2 linked regions of the Homo sapiens genome follow. The protein of the gene in region 2 interacts with the protein of the main gene of each other region in a biochemical or structural test. Each region holds a gene or a part of one and is shown on either strand. Other genes may lie near its edges.

Region 1 (7,024 bases), on a different chromosome or scaffold from region 2:
GTGTTAATATGATGATACTCGATGGGAGAGGGGCTGCTGCATGCCTTTGGGATCCTCTGCAGATCGTATCTATGTTTATTCATTTCATTCAAATTCATCAAAATATTTATTGGGAGCTGTTCCAGGCTCAGGGGAAATAGCCGTGAAGAAGATAGACGCAGCCCCTGCTCTCCTGGAGCGCACATTCTACAGAGGGAAACAGACAGTGAACACCAAATAAATAGGATCATTTCAGATCATAATAACTGATACAAAGAAAATAATTTAGGATGAAATGAAGGAATGTCTGCAAGCAATTGGGGAAGGTCTCCCTAAGGAGGTGCTATCAGAGCTGAGGTCCAAAGAAGCAGGCCCTGTAGAGGTGTGGGGAGTCACATAAACATGTCAGACTTCCAGGTGGAGAAAAGCAGAAAGCCGTCAGAGCAGGGTGGATGTAGCGTTAAGATCCACCATGTGGTTGAGAGCCAAGGGTACTGAAGCAGGGAGGGTCCTTTGCCATTGTGTCGAGGAGGGGCATGAACTCCAGAGCCCACCAAGGCCAGGCAAGGTTGACCCATGAGCAGAGCAGGCCCAGGTGAAGCCTTGGGAACCCCAGCTCAGGCCAGGCCCAGCTCCATCAGCTGGGGCCACACTGGAATGTGGGCCCCTGGTTGCTGAGGTTGTTTTCACATTTTTTTTTTACATGTCCCATTGTTTAGATTTGGCCAATCATTTAAGTATTTTCAGAGTACTTTGCAGGCCTAAGGAGCCCATCTGCTGCCAGATATGGCCAGTGAACTACTGATTGCACCCTCTAGGCCAGCCCGTTCATTTCAGTGTTAAAACGTCATGATGTGCCCGGGCATGGTGGTTGTCACCTATAATCCCAGCTACTCCAGAGGCTGAGGCAGGAGGATCACTTGAGGTCAGGAGTTTAAGACCACCTTAGGCAACATAGTATAACCCTATGTCTAAAAAAATATAAAAATCAAAATACTAGGGCATTGTGGCATGCACCTGTAGTCCCAGCCACTCGGGAAGCTGAGGTGGGAGGATGGCTTGAGCCCAGGAATTTGAGGCTGCAGTAAGCCATTGATTGCACCGCTACACTTCAGCTTAGGTGACAGAGCAAAACCCTGTCTCTTAAAAAAACAAAAATCATGTTTATTGTTGTCCTGGATGTAAATAGCAGGTACCCAGATGGATTTTTGAAAGGCAACATAAAGCCAGTTGGGAATTTTTCACAGCTCAAGCTAAAATGTCTAAGTGTGTGGTGTCATGAGTATGTTAAAATTACTGCTATCTTTTTGTGTTCTTCACTTTAGTGGTATTAAAAACAGGAAAGTAGGCCAGACATGGTGGCTCACACCTATAATCCCAGCACTTTGGGAAGCCAACATGGGTGGATCACCTGAGGTCAGGAGTTCGAGACCAGCCTGGCCAACATGGTGAAACCCCCATCTCTACTAAAAATACAAAATTAGCTGGGCGTGGTGGTGCATGCCTGTAATCCCAGCTACTTGTGAGGCTGCGGCAGGAGACTCGCTTGAACCCGGGAGGTGGAGATTGCAGTGAGCCGAGATCACGCCATTGCACTCCAGCCTGGGCAACAAGAGCAAGACTCCATCTCAAAAAAAAAAAAAAAGGAAGATAGTAAACTATACCAACAATGAAAAGTCTTATATAAAAACTAGTATGTACATATTCAATTTAACTGTGAAAAACAAAACCTATATGTTCACAAAGATTAGAAAAATTGGGAGAGATGTACATAGACTTTCTTGTTCACTGGCTTAGTAAAACTGCGTGAGCACAGTGCCTGGCACACTGACTTTGTATTGAAGTATAATAGACATACAGAAATGTGCACGTATCAGAAGTATAAGGCTCAGTGAATTTTCACAAACTGAATATACTCCGGTGCTTGGCACTCTGGTTGGGACATGGCCGTTCCTACACCCAACGGTAACCATCCTGATACTAATTCTTCAGATTGGTTTATCTGGTTTTGTTTTACATATATTTTGTACTTTATATTTTTAAAAACACTCTGTTTCCTCTTGTGTGTCTGGCTTCTTTCATTCTGCATTACATTTTTAGACCATCCATGTCATTGCATCTAGCTGTGAATGATCCACTCTCATGGCTGGTTTGTGCGTGTGAGTGTCAGAGTCCGAGTTGTGCGGGTAAGGGGGCAGTGAAGAATACCCACAATATAATTATCCATTCTGCTGTTGATAGACATTTGGGTAGCTGTTTCCAATTTAGAGTTATTACAAACAGTACTGCTCTAAACATTCTGATCGTATTCTTTGGTGAACATCTGTACACATTTTTGTTAGGTATATTTATACCCACAAGAAAAAATGCTTGTCATTGAGTATGCATGCATTCAGTACAGCTTTACCGCCAACCAGTTTTCAAAGTGGTAGTTGTACTAGTTGACAACCATACCGGTAGTGTATGAGAAGTCCGATCACCTTCTGTCTCTGGTGGGTAGTCAGTGATCTCCATTTTCATGACAGTTAATGAAGTCGAGCACATTTCCGAATATATGTTTACATTTGTCGTATCTACATATCCTCCTTTGTGAAGGGCCTGTTAAGTCTTTTGCCTGTTTTCCTGTTGGGTTACCTGCCTCCTTCTTAATGTTTTATAGTTCTTTATTTTGGAGATGAGTCACTTATTGACTATGTATATTGGAAGTATCTTCTACTGTATGGCTTGCCTTTGATTTTTTTAGTCAACTCCTTCGATGGATTGAAGTTTTTAATCTTCATATAATCTGACTGATCCTTGTTTTCCTTTATGTTTAGCTGCATTAGGTTTTTGGTTGCTGTTTTAGAAATCATTACCTGTTCCCAGCTCATGAAAATATTCTCCTCTTATTTCTTTTAAAAATATTATTTGTTCAACAATTTTTTGATGTCATATTTCACAGATGTCTCTTAGATACCAGCTATATTTCAATATCCATTTATTGAGAATAATGACAAGAAGCTTGGGTAAAGCTTTTAAACAGATTTGTAGTATATTCACAGCAGTGTCTAGTCATTTGAAAAGTAGTTAGAAGACATTGGGAGATACTTTCTCAATGTAGAAACCATGCTGTGTACTCCCCACACAGATCCGCAGACAACTCAAAGTGGTGGAGGCTCAAGGCTTGAGAGAACCTGAGTCAGCGGAGAGGCCATCTTAGCCTTGTTAATGTCAAAAGGTGTACATGTCCATTTATTCCATGTTTACAAAATACTTCTGTGTCAGGTATTGTGCTGATAAGATACTGGAAACATAAAGATGGACAAATAGGATCTCTTCCCTAGAAGAGCTTAGGGTCTAATGTGAGGGAGATAGTCATGTAAACAGATATGAGATATGTGTAGTAACCTGTTTCTGGTGTCCTGATTGATTGTAGTGTCTGGGATGTTACAGAGTAAGGAAGTGGGAGGGTGTCAGGAAAGCCTTTGTACAAGAAGCAACCCTTGAGTTATCAGCCAGGTAGGTAGATGGGTGATTTAAGGATTCTCTTGAAATTGTCATTATGCTTCACGGAGCAGTGAAGTGAAACCTGTTCATTCTCATGCATTGTTGGTAGGAGAATATAGTGGCACAGCCTCTTCAGAGAGTAATTTGGCAGCATCTGTCAAAATTTAAATTGCACATTCTTCCTGCATTTGTGCTAGATAGACACTGGAATACAATGTATGTGTCAGACAAATACCCAGGAGTAGAATACCGTGACCTAGCTCTTCCACTCCGGGCATTAATCCTACACACATACTCGTAAGTTCAGAAAGATGCTTCTTGCATCTTTGTTAATAACATCAAAATATTGGAAACAAACTAAATACCCATCAATAGAGAAATGGTTAAATGAATGGTGGTACATCTACAAATGCAGTATTTTAGAGCTGTTAAAAAGAAGGCAGCAGGCCAGGCACAGTGGCTCACATCAGTAATCCCAGCACTTTGGGAGGCTAAGGCAAGCAGATTGCTTGAGGTCAGGAGTTCAAGACCAGCCTGGCCAACATGGCGAAACCTGGTCTCTACTAAAAATATAAAAATTAGCCGGGCGTGGCGGTACACGCCTCTAATCCCAGCTACTCGGGAGGCTGAGGTGGGAGAATCGCTTGAACCTAGGAAGCTTAGGTTGCAGTGAGCCGAGATCATGCCACTATACTCCAGCCTAGGTGACAGAGCCGATAGCCTGTCTCAAAAAAAAAAAAAAAAAGGTGACGGCTCTTTCTCCATGTACTATGATGCCACAATCCCCAGGATGTGTTGAGTGAAAGTATCAAGGTGGAGAATGGTGCATATGGTTTGCTTTATTTCTTGCCCCATTTGGCCTTGGAAAGGGGAGATGGGTAGGGATATAGGTGTGCCTGAGTGTTTGTGCATATATGTCTCTGGAAGGCTACACGAGAAATGGGCCACAGTGGTGGCCTTGTCATGAGACAGAGGGACAACCATGTTCTGACTGAACTTTTTAAAAAACAAATCCTATGTATTACCTACTCAAAACAAAATGTTTTTGATGTGTGGCTTTTTTTAATTAAAAAACGTTTACTAAGTGCTGTGTGATATCCTTGTTTGGATCCTGGGGCAGAAGCAGGACATGTAGAAAAACTGATGCTATCTGAAAAAAGTCTGGAGTTAATAGTGATGTGGCAATGTTGAACTCTTCATTTTGACAAATGTCCCATGGTAATATGTCAGCACTGGGGGAAACTGGGTGGGAGGTACACAGGAGCTCTATCATCTTTGCAGCTTTTCTATAAATCTAAAATTATTCGAGTATAAAAAGTTTATTAAACTTTTTTTTTTTTTTTTTTACTTCAGTGAAACCTGTCAAATTGCATCTGCAAAATTGTTGTGTCTGAGAAAGTTAAAGCTCACTCCCTTCCCTTTTCTCATCTTGGTTTAGGTCGAAGAATTCCATCCACTGACGCCAACCTGCCATCTGGCGGTAAGGGCTTCAAACTCCGAAGACAGCCTTCAGAGCCAAAGCGGAGCTGCTGCTGACCGAACCTCAGCCTCTCAGACTTGATGATGAAGTAGGTGGTCCTGAAAGTTAACAGGAGGGCTGGGGTCCCTGCCACCAGTTTTCACCTAGCCAGTCTTGAGTCTTCTCCGTGCAAAAAGGATTCACAGAAATGGACCAGTTCTGTTCTCCAAAGACTGCAGCAATGATATTTCAGTCTGTGAACTTCTATTATGTAAAGAATCTCTAGTGTACAAAGGGACTACATCGTTGGCTTTTGACCTTGCTGAAAAGGAACATATAATTGTATGGATGGTAGGATTAAGTTGTTGAGTAGTTTTGTAATCAAGATTTTATGTAACATTTGTAAAGGGAAAATTAGCACTTTTGTGGTTCTTAAGGGAAAAGAAACAGACCTTGTGGAGATTATAATTTCCTTGGTTTCTGTTACCACTGTTAGAGGGAGTTGTATCATTTAACATATAGTAGGATAGTTTAAGTGTAGGGAGGACAATTATTGTCTGAAGCTAAAATGGGTTATTTATAGGACTGATGGAAATGATTTCATCTCTGCCATCTCTAAAGCACTTTTCATTGAACATGTTAGCCTAGGATACGTACAGTAAATTAACAATGATAGCAGCAGATGCCTAGCTCATCCTGGGTTTGCTTCTGACCTTGTCATGTGTGTGCCACCAAACACGTTATTGGCACCTTTTTAAATAAGCTCTCATGATCAAGATGGTGATGGTAGAGAAGCTGCCCGGAATAAACTGAATTTCATATGTTCTAAAATGACTAGCAATGGTTTAAAAAGGAAGAAGAGTGGAAGTGAAGAAGGTGGTATAAATGCTGTCAATTTTTTTTTAACCCAAGTATTTTGGTGGGGAAAAGCAAGTATCTATTGCTTAGCATATGTAAAGTTGTAGTCTATATTTATGGGGCCATTGCTTAAAGATTATAAATTATGTAAATACATTAATAAATTCTAAGTTTCATTTGACATTCCATTGAATCTCGCACCCAGTCTTGCGTATGCCTGCCCAGTTTTCAGCCTCTTAACGGGAGACTCAAGCACATTGGTATTGTATAAAGGTATAGAGCACTTAGCTTACAATCTTTAAAGGTTTCTCTGCCTTCCCTTCTACCCACCCGCCTCCCACCAGATCCCATCTGGAAATCATAATAAAGACATATGCCACTTTGACAAACCTGACTAGTCCTTACTAGCCTGAGGGTAAAAGATTAAGCTCCAACCTCAAGTCATTTACCTGGTCTTGGTAATAAGTTTCTTTTAGCTTGTACAGCATCCTCAGACCAACTGAGGAGCTTTCCTTGTTAACAATTTAGCTTATCTTTCTGTTTCCTTTATTTTTCCCCTGCCTCTGTTAGTGGTTAACACTCTTTTCCCTCAGGGAGCCTAATGAGGTTTTTAATATCATCTAAAAATAAAGCATTGAAGTGAAGTTGGTGAAAATTTGTTCCTGGTCTAATTTGGCACCCTTCCAACCTGAGTATTGTAGGGGAAGGAAATTTACAAGATTTAATAGGAAATGAAACAGCTTGAATTTCAAACTAAATTGTATTTTCAGAGCTATCCTGAAACTGAACAGCTGAAACTTTAAAAAATAATTGGTATTATTTTGTGCCCCCCACTTAATATGGATAGATTTTAATGGGAAAATTATAATTCAGATTAAATAAAAAACAATTCCCTTTTCCCTGTTGTATATCTTAAGCATTTGGAATTTTTTTTATCTTCTGAAATCATATAAAAAGAATGTCATTAGTAAAAATTCTAACTTCGTTTTGTTTAAAAGACATGTGGATGCTCCATGCCCCTAGGATTTTGCTTCCTCCCCGGTGCTAAATTAGCAAGCTCCTAGAGAAGCCATGTGATTCCCAGAGCCAGGCGCTTTACACCTAAAGTAGTTTGACTTTCTTCTGTATACATCCAGATGGATCCCAGGCATCCGGGCACCACCCTGGTGTGTCCCTAGAATTCCCACTGCTGGGCCTCTATCTCCATGACAACAAAATAAAAACAGAGGTTGCTTGACTCAT
Region 2 (7,024 bases):
AATATTTTATTATATTAATGACTGTTATCATTAGACGGTTAAAGGATATGTAGGCAGGCGTAGTGGCTCACACCTGTAATCCTGGCACTCTGGGAGGCTGAGATGGGAGGATCACTTGAGCCCAGGAGTTCAAGACCAGCCTGGCCAACATAGGACCCTGTTTCTACAAAAAATACAAAAATTAGCCAGGTGTGATGGATGGTGTGCACCAGTAGTCTTAGCTACTGAGGAGGCTGAAGTGAGAGATCACTTGAGCCTGGAATGCAGTGAGCCATGACGGAGCCCTGGACTCCAGCCTGGGTGACACAGTGAGACTCCATCTCCAAAAAAAAAAAAAAAAAAAAACAAAAAAAAAAAACAGATATGTAAGATTAGATAGTTCAACTAAGTGTGACTGGCATGATAAATAGCTTTATTGAGATATAATTCACATACATACACCATTTAAAGCAAATTCAGTGGTTTTTAGGATTTTCTTTTCTTTTTTTTTTTTCTTGAGACAGAGTCTCACTCTGTCACCCAGGCTGGAGTGCAGTGGCACGATCTCAGCTCACTGCAAGCTCTGCTTCCTGGGTTCACGCCATTCTCCTGCCTCAGCCTCCTGAGCAGCTGGGACTACAGGCGCCCGCCACCACGCCCGGCTAATTTTTTGTATTTTTAGTAGAGACGGGGTTTCACCGTGGTCTGGATCTCCTGACCTCGTGATCTGCCCGCCTCGGCCTCCCAAAGTGCTGGGATTACAGGTGTGAGCCACCGCGCCCAGCTTAGGATTTTCAGAGTTGTACAATCATCATAATAAATGTTAGAGAATTTTTATCATCCCAAAAACATGAAAGTAGGTAGATGTTACTATAATTATTCAAAAAAGTAAGCTGCATAAACCAGTGCCTGTCACTGGGCAGGTAATGTCCTATGTGAGAGGAAAGAATCATTAATGGACTCTATGCCTGGGCTGACGTCAGAGAGATATGGATTCATACCCTACTTCTGCAGTTTACTCACTGTTTGTCCCTGGGCAGGTTCTCATGAGGTGCAGTGAAGATCTAACAAGACCATGGGTATAAGGCACTTAATGTAGTGCCTAACACAAAGTGGATGCTCAGCTGGTTCTCTTCCATTTTCTTCCCCCAGCAAGGGCATAAGGTCCATGAGAAGCTTAGACCATTATGGTTTACTGATGCCTCCTCAGCCAACTCTTAAAACTTTACCTAGAACATAGCAGATGCTCAATAACCACTTGCTGAATGAATAAATGAATTTTCTTACCAAGCTCCTGGGGTTCCCACATGTAAGGATCAACCCCTCCATAGCTGAAAGACTCATATCCTTGGGTCCCTGACTCTGCTCGATCATCCCCTTCTCGTTTCAACAACCTGTCCTTTGCTTTTTTAGCCTTCTGGACAAGACCTTGAAAAATGGAACAAATAATACAAATGAGCCATGAAGAACACCCAGTAAACAGTCAAAAGAAATCTCAAAAAACAAGAGTTGACGAAATAATTATCGTTTGTTTAAAAATGCACCAGAAATATTTAGATCTCAAGTAAAATGCAGGAGCAAGCACACAAACACTATATTACAAATACCACAGAGCAATACACTAGTTAATCAATATTAGCATTAAATTGGTTTAGGCGGCCAACATATGGGCTAAATTACTGCTCATTGCCAAATTTAAGAGCACAATTAAATAAAAGTGCTAAAATCAAATTTGATGAGGAAAACAGGGTGATGGAAGTGTTTTCTTCTTTATCTTAATTGGAGTGGTGGTGAAGTGGGTATATACATTTTTGAAAACTTTTTGAATTGGGCCAGGCGCAGTGGCTCACACCTGTAATCCCACAAGGGAGGCAAATTGCTTGAGTCCAGGAATTCAAGCCAGCCTGGGCAACATGACAAAACCCCATCTCTACTAAAAATACAAAAAACTAGCTGGGTGTTGTGGCATGCACCTGTAGTCCCAGCTACTTGGGAGGCTGAGGTGGGAGAATCACCTGAGCCCAGGAGGTCGAGGCTGCAGTGAGCTGAGATTGTGCCACTGTACTCCAGCCTGGACAACCAGAATGAGACCCTGTCTCAAAAAAAAAAAAAAAAAAAAAAAAAAATTAAAACTATACCTCAGTTAAAATAATGTTTTTTAAAAAACAAGTTCTATAGTACTAATTCATTTACCCCAGAAACTCATGAGTAAATTCTTCTCATTTACCTCCAGGATGGGATTCAGCTAAACCTCCATCCGTGGACTGGTGTTCCCCATAGGCTTAACTGGACACAGAGTTCTTGCTTCCCCACTACTGCCCACGCACTTATTGAATGCATGTGAGAATACTTGCAAAAAGCTTCAAGAAACAGATATAACATCTACAACATAACACAAACAGAACCAGATTGGGTAAGAAGAGAAAATGAACATTTCCTGTATTTAGCCATCGTATGTACCAGGTACAACGCAAAGTGCTTGCAAATACATTATGCCAGTTCATGCTTACAATGTTATAAGGCAGGTGATAGCCCTACTTACAAATGAGGAAACGACATCAAAGACAGGGAAGAACTTGCTTCACCCAAGATCACAGAGCTTACAGGTAACAGCAGGGCTGGAAGTAGACACCTCATGTGCCTGAAATGAGAGCTCCAGCTCTCCCCCGCTAGTCCTGATTCACAAACTATGCCTCTGCAGAACATGGGTTCTGCCACCTGTGCTGGTGCAGAGAACCACCTGTTAAACTGAACAATCAGCTGGTGTGGGGCGGGAAGAATTCTCAGTTCTAAGACGCTCTCTCATGAATGTTCTTTAATCTTGGATGACTGCTATCCCTTTCTTCCACCAGAATCTAGTAGAAAATATCAGACTGAATATAAAATGGTATCATTACTTTTACTTTTTAATTATTTATTTTTTAGAGACAGGGTCTTGCTCTGTCACCCAGGCTGGAGTGCAGTGGCTGATCATAGCTCACTGCAGCCTTGATCTCTTGGGCTCAAGCGATCCTCTCGCCTCAGTCTCTCAAGTAGCTGGGACTATAGGTGTGCGCCACCATGACTAGGTAAATTATTTTATAAAACATTTTTTTGTAGAGATGTTGCCCAGGTTCGCAGGCTGAGGGTGAGATTGATAAGAATACACTTGTCTTTTTTTTTTTTTAAGACGGTCAAGCCAATAAGCAAACTTCCTGATTATTGGTCACTGTGGGACAGCTTTGTCCAAACTGGAAAAATACTAAAACAAAAGGACATCCTTTAAAATGCACTAAAGTGGGTTTTTTTTGTTTGTTTGTTTGTTTTTTTTTGAGACAGAGTTTCACTCTTGTTGCCCAAGCTGGAATGCAATGGCAGCAATCTCAGCTCACTGCAACCTCTGCCTTCCAGGGGTTCAAGGGATGCTCCTGCCTCAGCCTCCCGAGTAGCTGAAATTACAGGCACGTGCCAACACACCCAGCTAATTTTTGTATTTTTTTTAGTAGAGATGGGGTTTCACCACATTGGCCAGGCTGGTCTTAAACTCCTGGCCTCAGATGATCTGCCCACCTCGGCCTCCCAAAGTGCTGGGATTGCAGGCATGAGCCACTGTCCCTGGCCTAAAGCAGTCTTTTCTAGTAACAGGGGAGAGAAAACTGCCTGATGTGAACAAAGGGTCTAGCAAACAGGAATGTGAGTTAGCAAGTAACAATTCATTTTTGCAAACAAGACTAAAGTATCAGGTTAAACAGGCAATCTATACCATTTAACCACTTTTAGGAGATAGAAAAACTGCCTGGCAATGTTCCCAGAAAGGACATAGCCCTTCCAGAGAAGGCCAATTAAAAATAATCCCATATATTTTAAAAAACACTAACAAAGCAAGAAGCCACAGTCAATTTTCAGCTATCTTTTCTTCTACTTACTGAAAATGGGCTAGACTGGAGCTGAACCAGGACTGGGCCCCGAACCCACTAACTTTTTACTAATGACTAATCTATCTTTTCTTTTTTGAACTGCCCCCAAAACCTAATACTAAGGTTCACTCTTTTGGCTTTAACTTTTCACTTGCCCAAAACTAACCATGTCATAACATTTCTAAGAATCAAAAGACCAAATGGAGACGTAATCTGCTTTCTAAAGGGCTTTTCAAAAAACCTTTCATGTCAATCCTTAAAACTTTACTTTCCTGATTCTGAAATGCAGAAAACTGCAACATAATCAAGAATTCCTTTCTAACTAAAGACATGATCATTAATAGTACTAGAGGTAGAGATGTCGGGGGTAAGGCAGGGTGGGAAATAAAGGGAAAAACCAAGAGGATCTTTTCTTTCTTTTTTTTGAGACAGTTTCACTCTGTTGCTCAGGCTAGAATGTAACAGCCTTGATCTCCTGAGCTGAAGCGATCCTCCCACCTCAGCCTCCTGGGTAATTGGGACTACGAGTGCGTGCCACTATGACTGGCTAATTTTTTTAAATGATTTTTTTGTAGAAATGGTCTCGCTATGTTGCCCAGTCTGGTCTCCTGGGCTCAAGCAATCCTCCTGCCTTGGCCTCCCAAAGTACTAGAATTACAGGCATGAGCCACCGCACCCGGCTGAAGTAACTTTATTTTGTTTTTTTGTTTTTGAGTCAGAGTTTCACTCTGCTGCCCAGGCTGGAGTGCAGTGGCATAATCATGGCTCACTGCAGCTTCAACCTTCCGGGCTCAAGGGATCCTTCTGCCTCAGCCTTCCAAGTGGCTAGGACTACAAATGCATGTCATCATGCCCAGCTAATTAAAAAAAATTTTTTTTTATTTTTGGACAGGATCTATGTTGCCCAGGCTGGTATCAAACTCCTAAGCTGAAGCGATCCTCCCGCCATGGCCTCCCAAAGTGCTGGGATTACAGATGTGAGCCACTGTGCCCAGCCAAGGATCCTTTCAAGTTTCTTTCACAAGGCACAAAATTTCTATTCTATTTAGTATTCCTTAAATAGATTCCCATATCTGTATTCTCTAAATAACCTTAAACATTTTTCCTCTTAAAAAAGGGTCACTGTAGGAATCCGGGAACATTCTCTAACCTCTCTACCCACTGGTATCACCAGGTTGAGCAATGGCATTGTATAGGACTTAGTTCAGCTGACACCAAGACTGGAAGCTAGTTGAAAATGATGGAAGCTCTTCGGTTGTCCAAAGGAAACTTACATAATCAGGTTTTTTAGTTTTGTTTTTGCTTCATTTCCCCCAGGAAGCTGCAATGCATGTTGTGATTGGAACACGGGGCCTCTCACCCTCAGTGATGTCACGTGCAAAGGGCAGCACTGGATTTACAGATGACAGAAGACCTACGTTCCAGGCCTAGCTCTGCCAATTCCTGTGTGACCGTGGATAAGTAACTCAACATCTCTTGAGCCTCACTTCACTTACTATCTGTAAAATGAGACCAATCACCTTCTTGCAGAGTTGTTAGGAGAGTCAGATGAAACAATAATGTCTGTGAAAGAAACTCTAAAAACTATAAAGCACAGCATTTTTTTCCCTCCTAATAGTTTTGGCTCTGTTCTATAGCCTCTACAGCCAGAAGCCACCTCATCCACCAAAGCCCTCAGGATTTCAGAAATGTTTGCCTTTGTTGTTTTTGGATAGAAGTTATAACTGTTTATGCTTTTAGAAACTCTTTTTTACTGAACAGAAAAGTGAGATAGAGTGAGACTCTAGGGACAAATATCTGATTACAAAGTGCATATGATTCACCTGTCTGAAAGCTGAAGTCCACTTAGAAATACATGATCATTCCTTTCTTTCTCTCCCAATAAAGACTTTGAATACAACATCCAGAACTCTTTAATCTCAAGGCCTTCAGAAATGCTGCCAGCTGTGAGAAGCAAGTTAGCTGAATAACTACAAAATAAGTTCCAGAGGAGCAGCATCTTTGGCGTGTGTGTGTTTGTGTGTGTGTGTGTCTCTCTCTCTGTTGCCCAGGTGCGAGTGCAGTGGCATGATCATCGCTCACTACAGCCTTGACCTCCCTGGGCTCAAGTGATCCTCCTACCTCAGTCTCCTGAGTAGCTGGGACTACAGGCGTGCACCATCACGCCCGGCTAGTTGTTTTTTTTTTTAATTTTTTTTGTGAGACGGGGTTTCGCCATGTTGCCCAGGCTGGTCTTGAACTCCTGAGCTCAAGTGATCTGCCCACTCTGGCCTCCCAAAGTGCTGCGAATAGAGGCGTGAGCCACTGTGCCCGCCCAGAGGAGCAGCATCTTATCTGGAGGTTAGAATTTGATGTCCAGGAAATACAATAAACATATGTATAGTGAAAAGTACCTTTGAAAAATTCTTTCCACAACTCTCTCAAACCTGAGCTCTTGGAAGCTCAAAAACCAAGGTTTTTAGGTTGTTTTGTTCTTCGACTATGACCTTCCTTTTTCTGGGCTATAGAGGGCAAGATACCAATTGGGGAAGGAAGGATGGTGGGAAGTCTTAAATTTGTGACAGGTAAAATGGGTGCATAATGTGCCTCCATCATCATAGCAAAGGAAAGAAATTCCTCTCCAAACCCTGTTAGGCTGGTGGTTAAAGAACAGTCAAGCCAGATCACAGCAATTACATTTACTAGACTCAAAGTCAGATTGTTTCTCTGAGTGGCTTCAGACAAGTTATCTAATCTCTCTGTGTCTGGTTCGAAATGTGGCTTACAGCCACACAGTTATTGTGAGGATTAAATGAAATTAATAAACAGGGAAACTCTGAAAACGCCTGGCACATGACAAACACTAGTCATCTGTTTGCTACTACTATTATCATATTCCTGTGGCAACACCAAAGCTGATGAGAACTATCCCGTGAGTTAAAGCTCTCAACGACAGCAGGGGATAGGCAAGGTCCTCGCCTCTTACTTTTAATTTGCCCTTTGACATCACGGTCTTCCCCTGAGTGTTCTTCCTCGTAATGTGAGTGAAGCTGATAGAAAGACTGCAGATCCTTCAGGCACAGAGGGCAGAGGAAGCCCTCCCTCACTTCCCCTGGGTCGTCCAGAGAAGCCATGGCAGTGCCGCTCTCAACCCTAGGAAGGCAGGAATC

Evidence for each region. Proteins that work in one complex are often made in the same cells at the same time.
Region 1: the proteins of RBSN (region 2) and RAB22A are reported together in a solved structure, tested with the Homo sapiens proteins (one study listed by BioGRID).

The regions. Positions count from the first base shown.
Region 1 is NC_000020.11:58,354,703-58,361,726, forward strand, and holds part of RAB22A (ras-related protein Rab-22A), read left to right. Parts: intron 1-4,903; coding exon 4,904-5,001; 3' UTR 5,002-7,024. UniProt on the Homo sapiens protein: Plays a role in endocytosis and intracellular protein transport. Mediates trafficking of TF from early endosomes to recycling endosomes. Required for NGF-mediated endocytosis of NTRK1, and subsequent neurite outgrowth.
Region 2 is NC_000003.12:15,089,133-15,096,156, forward strand, and holds part of RBSN (rabenosyn-5), read right to left. Parts: 5' UTR 6,989-7,024; coding exon 6,841-6,988; exon of another isoform or gene 6,539-6,840; intron 2,362-6,538; exon of another isoform or gene 2,207-2,361; intron 1,408-2,206; coding exon 1,267-1,407; exon of another isoform or gene 1,028-1,266; coding exon of another isoform or gene 1,003-1,027; intron 1-1,002. UniProt on the Homo sapiens protein: Rab4/Rab5 effector protein acting in early endocytic membrane fusion and membrane trafficking of recycling endosomes. Required for endosome fusion either homotypically or with clathrin coated vesicles.